Linked DNA regions of Homo sapiens: region 2 is linked to region 1. Evidence: fine-mapped expression QTL. A gene starts in region 1. The other region holds a variant in brackets. All regions are shown on one strand. Distances are from middle to middle. Region 1 holds the start of ATP6V1E1 (ATPase H+ transporting V1 subunit E1). Region 2 overlaps ATP6V1E1 (ATPase H+ transporting V1 subunit E1).

What was found.
Region 2: its variant is fine-mapped to the expression of ATP6V1E1 in whole blood (INTERVAL, PIP above 0.99).

What each region holds. Positions count from the first base shown.
Region 1 is chr22:17,625,644-17,631,020 of GRCh38, forward strand. ATP6V1E1 (ATPase H+ transporting V1 subunit E1) reads right to left here and starts at 3,106. Exons shown (of 9, transcript NM_001696.4): 1 at 2,960-3,106. The coding sequence starts at 2,992. It also overlaps a transcript of BCL2L13 not described here. RefSeq lists enhancers at 2,801-2,950, 3,031-3,120, 3,062-3,231.
Region 2 is chr22:17,591,845-17,597,221 of GRCh38, forward strand. It overlaps ATP6V1E1 (ATPase H+ transporting V1 subunit E1), which reads right to left. Exons shown (of 9, transcript NM_001696.4): 8 at 2,685-2,772; 9 at 292-892. The coding sequence ends at 830. Among named protein-coding and RNA genes, the nearest start is that of SLC25A18, 31 kb to the left of the region's middle. The variant T/C (reference allele first, on the strand shown) is at 3,030.

The DNA of each region.
Region 1 (5,377 bases):
AGCACAGTACTTCAGAAAAAAAAGGACTTAGTTCTCTAAACTATGTGCAAATTAAAACTGCAGCCTTAAACTTCCTTCTCTGAAAAATCTATCGGCAATATGATTACTAAATGCAAGGATTCTGATTTGTTAGTTATAGGCTTATAAACTGCTACTATATTCCCCTGAGAGTCTTTTGCATGACAAAATTCTTAATACCTACAGACTTGAAGGTATGGCACTTAAAAAAAAAAAAAAAGTTTCCCAGGACTGATTACACTTTGAAAACTGATGTGGGTTCACGACTTCCACAACAATTTTTTCCCATAAACTCTGATACATCTACTTGGTGCCAAACACCGTTAGGCATTGAGGCTCCTAAATGTAAGCAAAAGGGGTCCTGGCCAGGCGCGGTAGCTCATGCCTGTAATCCCAGCACTTTGGGAGGCCGAGGTGGGCAGATTACGAGGTCAGGAGATCAAGACCATCCTGGCTAATACAGTGAAACCCCATCTCTAATAAAAAATAGAAAAAATTAGCCAGGCGTGGTGGCGGGCGCCTGTAAGTCCCAGCTTCTCGGGAGGCTGGGGCAGGAGAATGGCATGAACCCAGGAGGTGGAGCTTGCAGTGAGCGGAGACCATGCCACTGCACTCCAGCCTGGGCAACAGAGCGAGACTTCGTCTCAAAAAAAAAAAAAAAAAAAAAGAAAGAAAAGAAAAAGCGGTCTTCCATTTGACACAATTTTGTTTATTTATTTAATATTTTTAGAGACAGGGTCTTTTGCTCTCTCACCCAGGATGGAGCACAGTGGCATGATCATAGCTCACTGCAGCCTCGACCCCTTGGGCTCAAATGATTCTCCCACATCAGCCTCCCTAAGTAGCTAGGAGCACATGTGTGCCCCACCACACCTGGCAATTTTTTTTTTTTTTTGAGACAGTCTCGCTCTGTTGCCCAGGCAGCAATGGTGTGATCTCGCCTCACCATAACCTCCACCTCCCGGGTTCAAGAAATTCTCCTGCCTCAGCCTCCTAGTAGTTGGGATTACAGGCATATGCCAGCACGCCCCACTAATTTTGTATTTTTAGTAGAGACAGGGTTTTGCCACGTTGGCCAGGCTGGTCTGGAACTCCTGACCGCAGGTGATATGCCCACCTCGGCCTTCCAAAGTGCTGGGATTACAGGCATGAGCAACCATGCCCAGACAGCCTGGCTTATTTTTTAAGAAAAAATTTTTTAGAGATAAGGTCTATGTTGCCCAGGCTGGTCTTGAACTCCTGGGATCAAGCGATCCTCCCACCTCAGCCTCCCAAAGTGCTGGGGGCTACAGGTGTGAGCCACCACACCTGGCGTGTATTTGTGTTTATTAATATTAAAATTTTTTGAGATGGAGTCTCACTCTGTCACCCAGGCTGGAGTGCAGTGGCACAATCTTGGCTCACTGCAACCTCCGCCTGCCGGGTTCAAGCGATTCTCCTGCCTCTGCCTCCTGAGTAGCTGGGACTACAGGCGCACCCCACTAGGCCCAGACAATCTTTTTTTTTTTATTTTTTTGAGAGGGAGTCTCGCTCTGCCGCCCAGGGTCGCTCGGCCTCCCGGGTTCACGCCATTCTCCTGCCTCAGCCTCCCGAGTAGCTGGGACTACAGGCGCCCGCCACCATGCCCGGCTAATTTTTTGTATTTTTAATAGAGATGGGGTTTCACCATGCTGGCCAGGCTCGTCTCGAACTCCTGACCTCAGGTGATCCGCCCTCCTCAGCCTCCCAAAGTGCTGGTATTACAGACGTGAGCCACCATGCCCGGCCCCAGCCTGTATCTCACAAATGTTAACACACACATTAGTGGGAGACCAATCATTACAATCCATTATGATAGAGGGGACTTCCCCAAAATGAAGATTAACAGTACATACAGGCCTGGCGCGTTGGCTCATGCCTGTAATCCCAGCACTTTGGGAGGCCCAGGTGGGAAGATCACCTGAGGTCAGGAGTTCAAGACCAGCCAGGCCAATATGGTGAGACCCTGCCTCTACTAAAAAAAATACAAAAATTAGCCGGGCTTGGGGCGCGAGTCTGTAATCCCAGCTTCTAGGGAGGCTGAGGCAGGAGAATCACTTGAACCCGGGGCGGAGGTTGCAGTGAGCCGAGATCGCGCCCTTGCACTCCAGCCTGGGCGACAGAGTGAGACTCCGTCTCAAAAAAAAAAAAAAGAAAAAAAGAAAAAAACACAGTTCATAAAGTGAACGACCTTGTCAAAACACTGGTTGGAAGCAGGTCTCTTCCCTCCGCACTGTTTCCTATCATATAGCCTTAAGCATTTCCCTCAGGGTTAAAAAAAAAAAAAGTGACAAGGCTGGTTTGTTTTTTTTTTTTCTTTTTCCAGAGGGAGTCTCGCCCTGTCGCCCATGCTGGAGTGCAAAGGCGCGATCTCGGCTAACTGCAACCTCCGCCTCCGGGTTCAGCTTCCCGAGTAGCTGGGATTACAGGCGCGCGCCACCACGTCCGGCTAATTTTCTATTTTTAGTAGAGACCGGGGTTTCACCATTTTGGCCAGGCTAGTCTCGGACTCCTGACCTCAGGTGATCCGGCCGCCTCGGCCTCCCAAAATACTGGGATTACAGGCGTGAGCCACTGCCCCTGGCCACAAGGCTGTTTTCAATCCTTGCACAGATCTCTGTCCGACTAGGCACAGTGAATACCCTTGGAAAACAGGGAATGCTGAGGTGGGAGGCAAAGAGCCAGGGCGTTCAAGAAGGCAGCGCGCAGGCAAGCGGGCAGTGCCCAAGACCCGAGCAAAAGTCACATGAGCTGCGGGGCAAATCTCCGTCCTCAGGCCGACCTCTTGGATCTGGTGACTTGGAGCAAGGGACCTTCCTGCGGCATCTGGGCGGCTCAAGGCCCGCGGCCTTCCCTAGGCGGGCTCCAGCCCACTCCCCGGGACTGCCGCCGCGGCTTCGTAAGACCCAACCAAGCCCCTCACCTGCTTTTGCACGTCAGCATCGCTGAGAGCCATGGCGAGAGCAATGCTAGGCCGGTGAACAGTAGGCTCGAGTTTAGGTTTGAAAGGTGAGGTGAGAGAAATCGGCAAAGGGAACCCCTGCGCAGATCTCGGGTTCCTTTACTTTATAACCGCGGGTTCCGGTTCCTGCCAGGTGACTGCACAGTTCATCCTCATGACCCTTCTCAGCCAATGGGAAGAGAGCGACGCCCAGGAAGTCCCGCCCTGTCCCGGCCTGTGGGCGCGTCCTCGGGTCCTTCTACGTCGCTGACTCGTGACCTGACCGGTATTTTTTTCCTAAACTGGGATCTTGGGTAGGAGGAAGAAAAGATAAGGAGTTCCTCTATCTGAAATTAGTCGGGCTGTTTTGAGGAGTACTGGTTAGGTATATTGGAGAATGTGCCTTTATTGGAATTTTTCGCATAATTACACAGGGTTATGGGCTTAGGGGTACATGATTGTTGGCCGGGCGTGGTGGCTCACGCCTGCAATCCGGAGACTTTGGGAGACCAAGGCGGGTGTATCGCTTGACCTCAAGTTCGAGACCAGGCTGGACAACATAGAGGAACCCCGTCTCTACCAAAAGAAAAAAAAAAGGGGGATACATGATTTCTGACTATTCATGTCAACCTTGATTACCTGAATAAAGTGTAGGGTTTGTAGGTTTCTCCACTCTGAAGTTACCTTTTTTAACCCCCTTTCCATACTGTAGTCTTAGGAAGGAAGCCACTATACAAAGCCCACACCTAGGGAGTGGGAAGCTATGCTCAACTTCCTTATTAGGGTGGAGCAGCTACATAATTTATTTGGAACTTTTCTGAGATAGCCTATATATTTTTCAAAAGCCTTCCCAGGTCCCATTTAGAGGAATATTAGGACAGAAATCCCCCCAGGCTCATTTGTTTTTATTTGGATTTACCTCAAGCCCGTTTTTTTCCCCAAAATCCCAAAGGCAAAAACTTTTGAAAATTCCTTTATCTTTAGGATAGACTGACTCCTAATAGTAGAATAAGAGGTCAAATGGTACACCCACTTTTTTCTTTTTACTGTGCTATGGTTACCCACCATTTTTATTAGCTTTTTATCTTGAAGAAATTTGAGATATAGTAACTTGTAAGAATACTGCATTGACCTCCCTTCACCTAGATTCAACAATTGTTAACATTTTGCTACATGTACATTAACACTTTATTTTCATACACACACACACACACACACACACACACACTTCCTATTTTAGTGTGTCATAAGAACGAGGATGTAGCAAATTCAGGAAATTTAGTTTACTAGGCTGAACATTAATTTCCTTTGTCCCGGGCCAGGCGCGGTGTCTCACGCCTGTAATCCCACCACTTTGGGAGGCTGAGGTGGGCAGATCACCTGAGGTCGGGATTTCGAGACCAGCCTGACCAACATGGAGAAACCCCAGTCTCTACTAAAAATACAAAATTAACAGGCGTGGTGGTGTGTGCCTGTAATCCCAGCCACTGGAGAGGCTGAGGCAGGAGAATTGCTTCAACCCAGGAGCAGAGGTTGCGGTGAGCCAAGATCGTGCCACTGCACTCCAGCCTGGGCAATAAGAGTGAGACTCCGTCTCAAAAAAACAAAAAAAAAAAAAACAAATTCCTTTGTCCCATCAATCCATCAATGTACTTTATAACCCTTTCTTTTTTTTTTGAGACAGAGTCTCACTCTGTCGCCCAGGCTGCAGTGCAACGGCATGGTGTCAGCTCACTACAACCTCTGCCTCCCGGGATCAAGTGATTCTCCTCCCTCAGCCTCCCAAGCAGCTGGGATTACAGGTGCCTGCCACCATGCATGGCTAATTTTTGTATTTTTAGTAGAGATGAGGTTTCACTGTGTTGGCCAGGCTGGTCTTGAACTGCTGACCTCGTGATCCACCTGCCTCGGCCTCCGAGAGTGCTGGGATTACAGGTGTGAGCCACTGCACCCGGCCTTCTTTTTCTTTTCTTTTTTTTTTTTTTTTTGAGATGGAGTCTCGCTCTGTTGCCCAGGCTAGAGTGCAGTGGCAGAATCTCGGCTCACCACAACCTCCGCCTCCCGGGTTCAATTGATTCTCCTGCCTCAGCCTCCCCAGTAGCTGAGATTACAGGCATCTGCCACCACGCCCAGCTAATTTTTGCATTTTTAGTAGAGATGGGGTTTCAACACATTGGCCAGGGTGGTCTTGAACTCCCGACCTCAGGTGATCTGCCTGCCTCCACCTCCCAAAGTGCTGGGATTACAGACGTGAGCCACCGCGCCCAGCCATAACCTTTTTTTAATAACCTTACTTTTTAACCTTTTATAACCTTCTTATAACCTTACTTTATAACCTTTATAACCTGGATTGGATCCAGGGTCACTTACTGCATTAGTGATCATGTCTTTTTAGTCTCC
Region 2 (5,377 bases), 34 kb before region 1:
AGAAAAAACAAACAACTTGGTTTTTCTCATTCGGGCAACACTAATAAAACTATTTCCTCAATAAAGTTGTGCACGTCACGCTGAAGAGCCATGTGGGGTGTGTGGAAGATTGCAAGGGTGGAAAGAATGCTCCTGGTGATGGGCTGGGAACAACGGGCAACAGCCCAGGGGACCCCCAGAGGGTTAACGGGTCCAGGTGCTGACAGCTGTCACCATCAAGTGCCACGGGGATTGGGAAAATACTTCTTTTCTAGGTGCCTCAGTAAGAATTTGACTCTGTCAAAACCTAAATTTGTAGTGCCTTACACTAGAAATCACATTAAATCCGCATAACTCTTTTAATAAATAAAGCATATTCATGGCTTAGATTTTAAATCACATTTACAGATGAGGGAAAACTTCTAGGCCTAAACAGGTAACAGTAAAGCGACTACTGCTGGAAGGAGTGGTGTGCCACATGCGCCTTAAGCCTCAAGAGTGGGGACTGCAGGGCCAAACACCAAATACATCACCTTTAGGCCAGACGGAGAGTGGAGACCCAGGAAGCCCATGCAACCACCATCTGCCCCCTCCCCTAGTGCTGCAGAACCGGCTGGACACTGTCACACTTTCAGAAGAACTGGAGGTGGGTCCTGATCATATTACATGAAGCTTTCCACCATTGTGAACAATTAGGCAAGGCATGAGTGACAGAGGGGCATCGCTGATAAATACAGAGCAATACTGGGGCAGTGAAGAGGAAGCTACAGAGACATTCGTGTTTCTTCAAATATCAGAAGCTTCCACATCACAGCAGGAGAGCTGACGACGAGCTCCACCTCCTGAAGGCTTAGTCCAAAAACTTCCTGTTGGCATTTGCACCAAACAAGGCTCCCCGGACTTCTGGCATCATCTGTGGAGAGAAAGTGTAATAAATACGCAATGTCAGCTGAAGAAGTTGTAGAGCGCTGCACATCTTTTTTTTTTTTTTTTTTTTGAGACGGAGTCTCGCTCTGTCGCCCAGGCTGGAGTGCAGTGGCGCATCTCCGCTCATTGCAAGCTCACGCCATTCTCCTGCCTCAGCCTCCCAAGTAGATGGGACTACAGGTGCTTGCCACCATGCCTGGCTAATTTTTTTGTATTTTTAGTAGAGACGGGGTTTCACCATGTTAGCCGGGATGGTCTCGATCTCCTGACCTCGTGATCCACCCGCCTCGGCCTCCCACAGTGCTGGGATTACAGGCGTGAGCCACCAAGCCTGGCCAGAGTGCTGCACATCTTAACCACAGGTGGAAAGCCATGAACCTCTATGTGGCTGGGAAGGACTCACAAAGCCACGCACATCAAAGCCACCCTCTCCTTCCCTGAAGCAAGTAACACATTCCTTGGTGAGAAACTTAACTCATCCCAAATCTGGGGTTCAGACTGCTTACAAAAGGGACACATTAAAAAAAAACAAAACAAAAAAAAACCTAAAGTCACTACTATCTCAGACTTAACTCATCATAATCATCTCACCACAATATGCTGGGTCACCTACACTCTTTCTTCAACAAACATTTACTGAGTGCCTACTATGGCCACAGCAGCTGCAAAGAACACTTCCAATGCCAGCTTAGGCTGGAAGCACTTGCTACAGCCACTGATGAATCCTTAGGAGAACTTAACCCTGGACTTCCAAGGCTCGGCTGTCCAACAGGGCAGTCCTAGCTACAGATGGTTATTGTGTGCTGAGAAACTGAATTTTTCGGTTTAATTAAATATCCGTAAGTGAGTAGTGGCTATGATACTGGATGGGACAGTGGCTACTAGGAAACAATGTTCTGAGGTTTAAGTTACCAGAATATGAAAAAATCAAGGTGAAAGTGCTTTAGTTATAAGACAAGTATCTGCATAAACAGTAAACTGCATATCTAGGTCAGGGAATAACTAGGTTGGCAGCCACAGCAATAGACTCCCACTAGAAGTCTAGAAGATGCCCAGCATTTTAGAACAAATGGAATTTTCCTGGCTTGTTTCCTAGAGTTCCTGTGTACAAATCTGGAAACATCTGAAAAGCCAGCAGCTTTATGATAATTCCTTTAAATAAGTATTTGTGTCTGAGCACGGTGGCTCACACCTGTAATCCCAGCACTTTGGGAGGCCAAGGCGGGTGGATCACCTGAGGTCAGGAATTTGATAACAGCCTGGCCAACATGGTGAAACCCCGTCTCTACTAAAAATACAAAATTAGCCGGGTGTGGTGGCAGGTGCCTGTAATCCCAGCTACTCGGGAGGCTGAAGCAGGAGAATCGCTTGAACCTGGGAGGTGGAAGTTGCAGTGAGCCAAGACTGCACTCCAGCCTGCGCAAAAAAGAGTGAAACTCCATCTCAAAAAAGCAAAACAAAACAAAAAAACACAAGTATTTGCTTTAGTTCCCATCACTCCTGTTAGAGAAAGAACTTGTCAGCACCTTACATGTAGTAAAATGTACATATTCGAATCCTAGGTCAACAAAACACTTGTTCTGACCCCAAATTCACCCTCATGTAAATGTTACCACCTCAGCAAATGCTACTACATGCCCAATTCTCATTCTTTTTGAGAAAATGTCCAAAACTGGAAAGACAGCAACAAATCCCAAATACCAGTGAATGGACACGTGTTCTCTGTCCCACTTCAAAGTAACAGCAGACCAACTACCAAGAAGTACCCCCACACTCACCTGCTGGGCTATGAGATCCAGCCGGCTTTCCAGGGTGTTGGAAACCTTTATTTTACGATCTCCATTATAGATCTCAACTCCACCAGCTCTGCAAAAAAAAAAGCACAGGAAATAATCATTTTCAAAGACTTGAGAAAGATACATGGTACCCTTTACTCCCGCAGAGGAATGCCCTTGTCTTGGTGTGTAGACTGCGCAACCTAAGCAACAGGCTTGAAAGGAACTGAAAAAGCTTCTGAAGATGTAACGCACAGTTGGTTTCAGGAAACCCCAGTCCCCGCCTAGATGTCCATTATATGAAACAGCGTAGTATTTGCATACAACCATCACACATCCTCCCCTATA[T/C]TGCAAATCATGTCTACAGCACTTAAAATAGCTAATACGATGTAAATGGTTGTTATACCGTAGTGTTTAGGGAGTGAAAAGAAAAAGTTGGTTGAATTCACAGGTGTGGACCCCAAAGATACAGAGAACTGACTGTATTCATCTCAATAACTGTCATTTACCAAGTGACACTATGTGTCAATTTGTTTTGTTTTTTTTGAGACTCGCTCTGTTGCCCAGGCAGGAGTGCAATGGTGCGATCTTGGCTCACTGCAACCTCTGCCTCCCGAGTTCAAGCAATTCTCCTGCGTCAGCCTCCCCAGTAGCTGGGATTACAGGCACCTGCCATCACGCCTGGCTAATTTTTGTATTGTTGTAGAGACGGGGTTTCACCATGTTGGCCAGGCTGGTCTTGAACTCCTGACCTCAGGTGATCCGCCCACCTCTGCCTCCACAAGTGTTGGGATTACAGGAGTGAGTCACCGCGCCCAGCCTGTGTCAATTTGATTTTATGTTACAAAACCTGTTTTAATTATCACAGCCAGCCCTCCCCAACAAAATGAAAAAGAGAGGATTTCATCTCAGTTTGCAAATCACTCAATCCTCATCTGAATGTTTTCTTAAGCCCAATCCTGCTCATTACTGATGAGGCCCTATCACGACTGCATGTGTGTCTGATAAAAGATGCCACTGCTGGCCGGGCGTGGTAGCTCACCCCTGTAATCCCAGCACTTTGGGAGGCCGAGGTGCTCCCAAACTCAAGTTTGAGGCCAGCCTGGCCAACATGGCGAAAGCCTGTCTCCACTAAAAATACAAAAATTAGCTGGGCATGGTGGGGCGTGCCTGTAGTCCCAGCTACTTGAGAGACTGAGGCAGGAGAATTGCTTGAACCCAGGAGGCAGAGGTTGCAGCAAGCCGAGATCACACCACTGCACTCCAGCTTGGGTGACAGAAAGAGACCCTTACTCAAAATACAACAACAACAACAAAAAAAGAGGCTGGGTGCGGTGGCTCACGCCTGTAATCCCAGCTCTTTGAGAGGCCGAGGTGGGCAGATCACGACATCAGGAGATTGAGACAATCCTGGCTAACAAGGTGAAACCCCGTCTCTACTAAAAATACAAAAAAAATTAGCGAGGCATGGTGGCGGGTGCCTGTAGTCCCAGCTAATCGGGAGGCTAAGGCAGGAGAATGGTGTGAACCTGGGAGGTGGAGCTTGCAGTGAGCCGAGGTCGTGCCACTGCACTCCAGCCTGGGTGAGAGTGAGACTCTGTCTCAAAAAATAAATAAATAAATAAATAAGATAAAAAATGCTATGAGGTTAGTGCTAATACGTCAATTTACAGATAAGGGAATCAGGGCTCACTACTATGGTTTGAGTCTGTTCCCTCAGAAACTAATGGTGAAATTTGATTCTCAATGTGGCAGTGTTGGGAGGTGGAGCATAGTAGGAGGTGTTCAGGGCTCAAGGGCAGATCCCGAGGCAATGAACTGTGGCGAGGGCCTGGATTCTAGCTCCGGCAGGACTCGACTGTGAGCAGAGGGTGGGCTGGTATGATAGGGAGTCTGGTTCCCTAGGCTCTCTGGCCTCCTCTCTCGCCATGTGGTCTCTATGCACACACCCACTCCCCTTCCACCTTCTGCCATGAGTGGAAGCAGCCTGAGGCCCTCACCAGATGCAGCTGTCCAATCTTGAACTTTCCAGCCATGAGAATCATGAACCAAATAAACCTCTTTTCTCCATGAATTACCCAGCCTCGGGTATTCTGTTATAGCAACACTAAATGGACGACACCACTCAATGAAACTGAATAAACGAGTCCAAGATTACCCAGGTAGTAAGTGGCAGAATCAGGAATCTAACCCAACTCTGACAGCATATCTTATGAGTTTATATACTTTTTCCATTTACAGAGCATTTTCACATGTACTATCTCATCTTTTTTTCTTCACTGCATGAAACAAAAAAGCAAAAAGCAATGATCCTATTTTACATATGATGAATTCAGTCTCCAGGTCCCATAGTAGCAAAAGGCCAAGATAGGACTCAAATCTAGGTCTTACATTCCTAAGTGTGATAATCAGCTAACTTCAAAATGTGTCCAAGGCACCAGGCATGGTGGCTCACGCCTGTAATCCCAGCACTTTGGGAGGCCGAGCGGGCAGATCACGAGGTCAGGAGATCGAGACCATCCTGGCTAACACAGTGAAACCCCATCTCTACTAAAAATACAAAAAAATTAGCTGGGCGTGGTGGCAGGCGCCTGTAGTCCCAGCTACTCAGGAGGCTAAGGCAGGAAAATCGCTTGAACCTGGGAGGCAGAGGTTGCAGTGAGCCAAGATCATGCCACTGTACTCCAGCCTGGGTG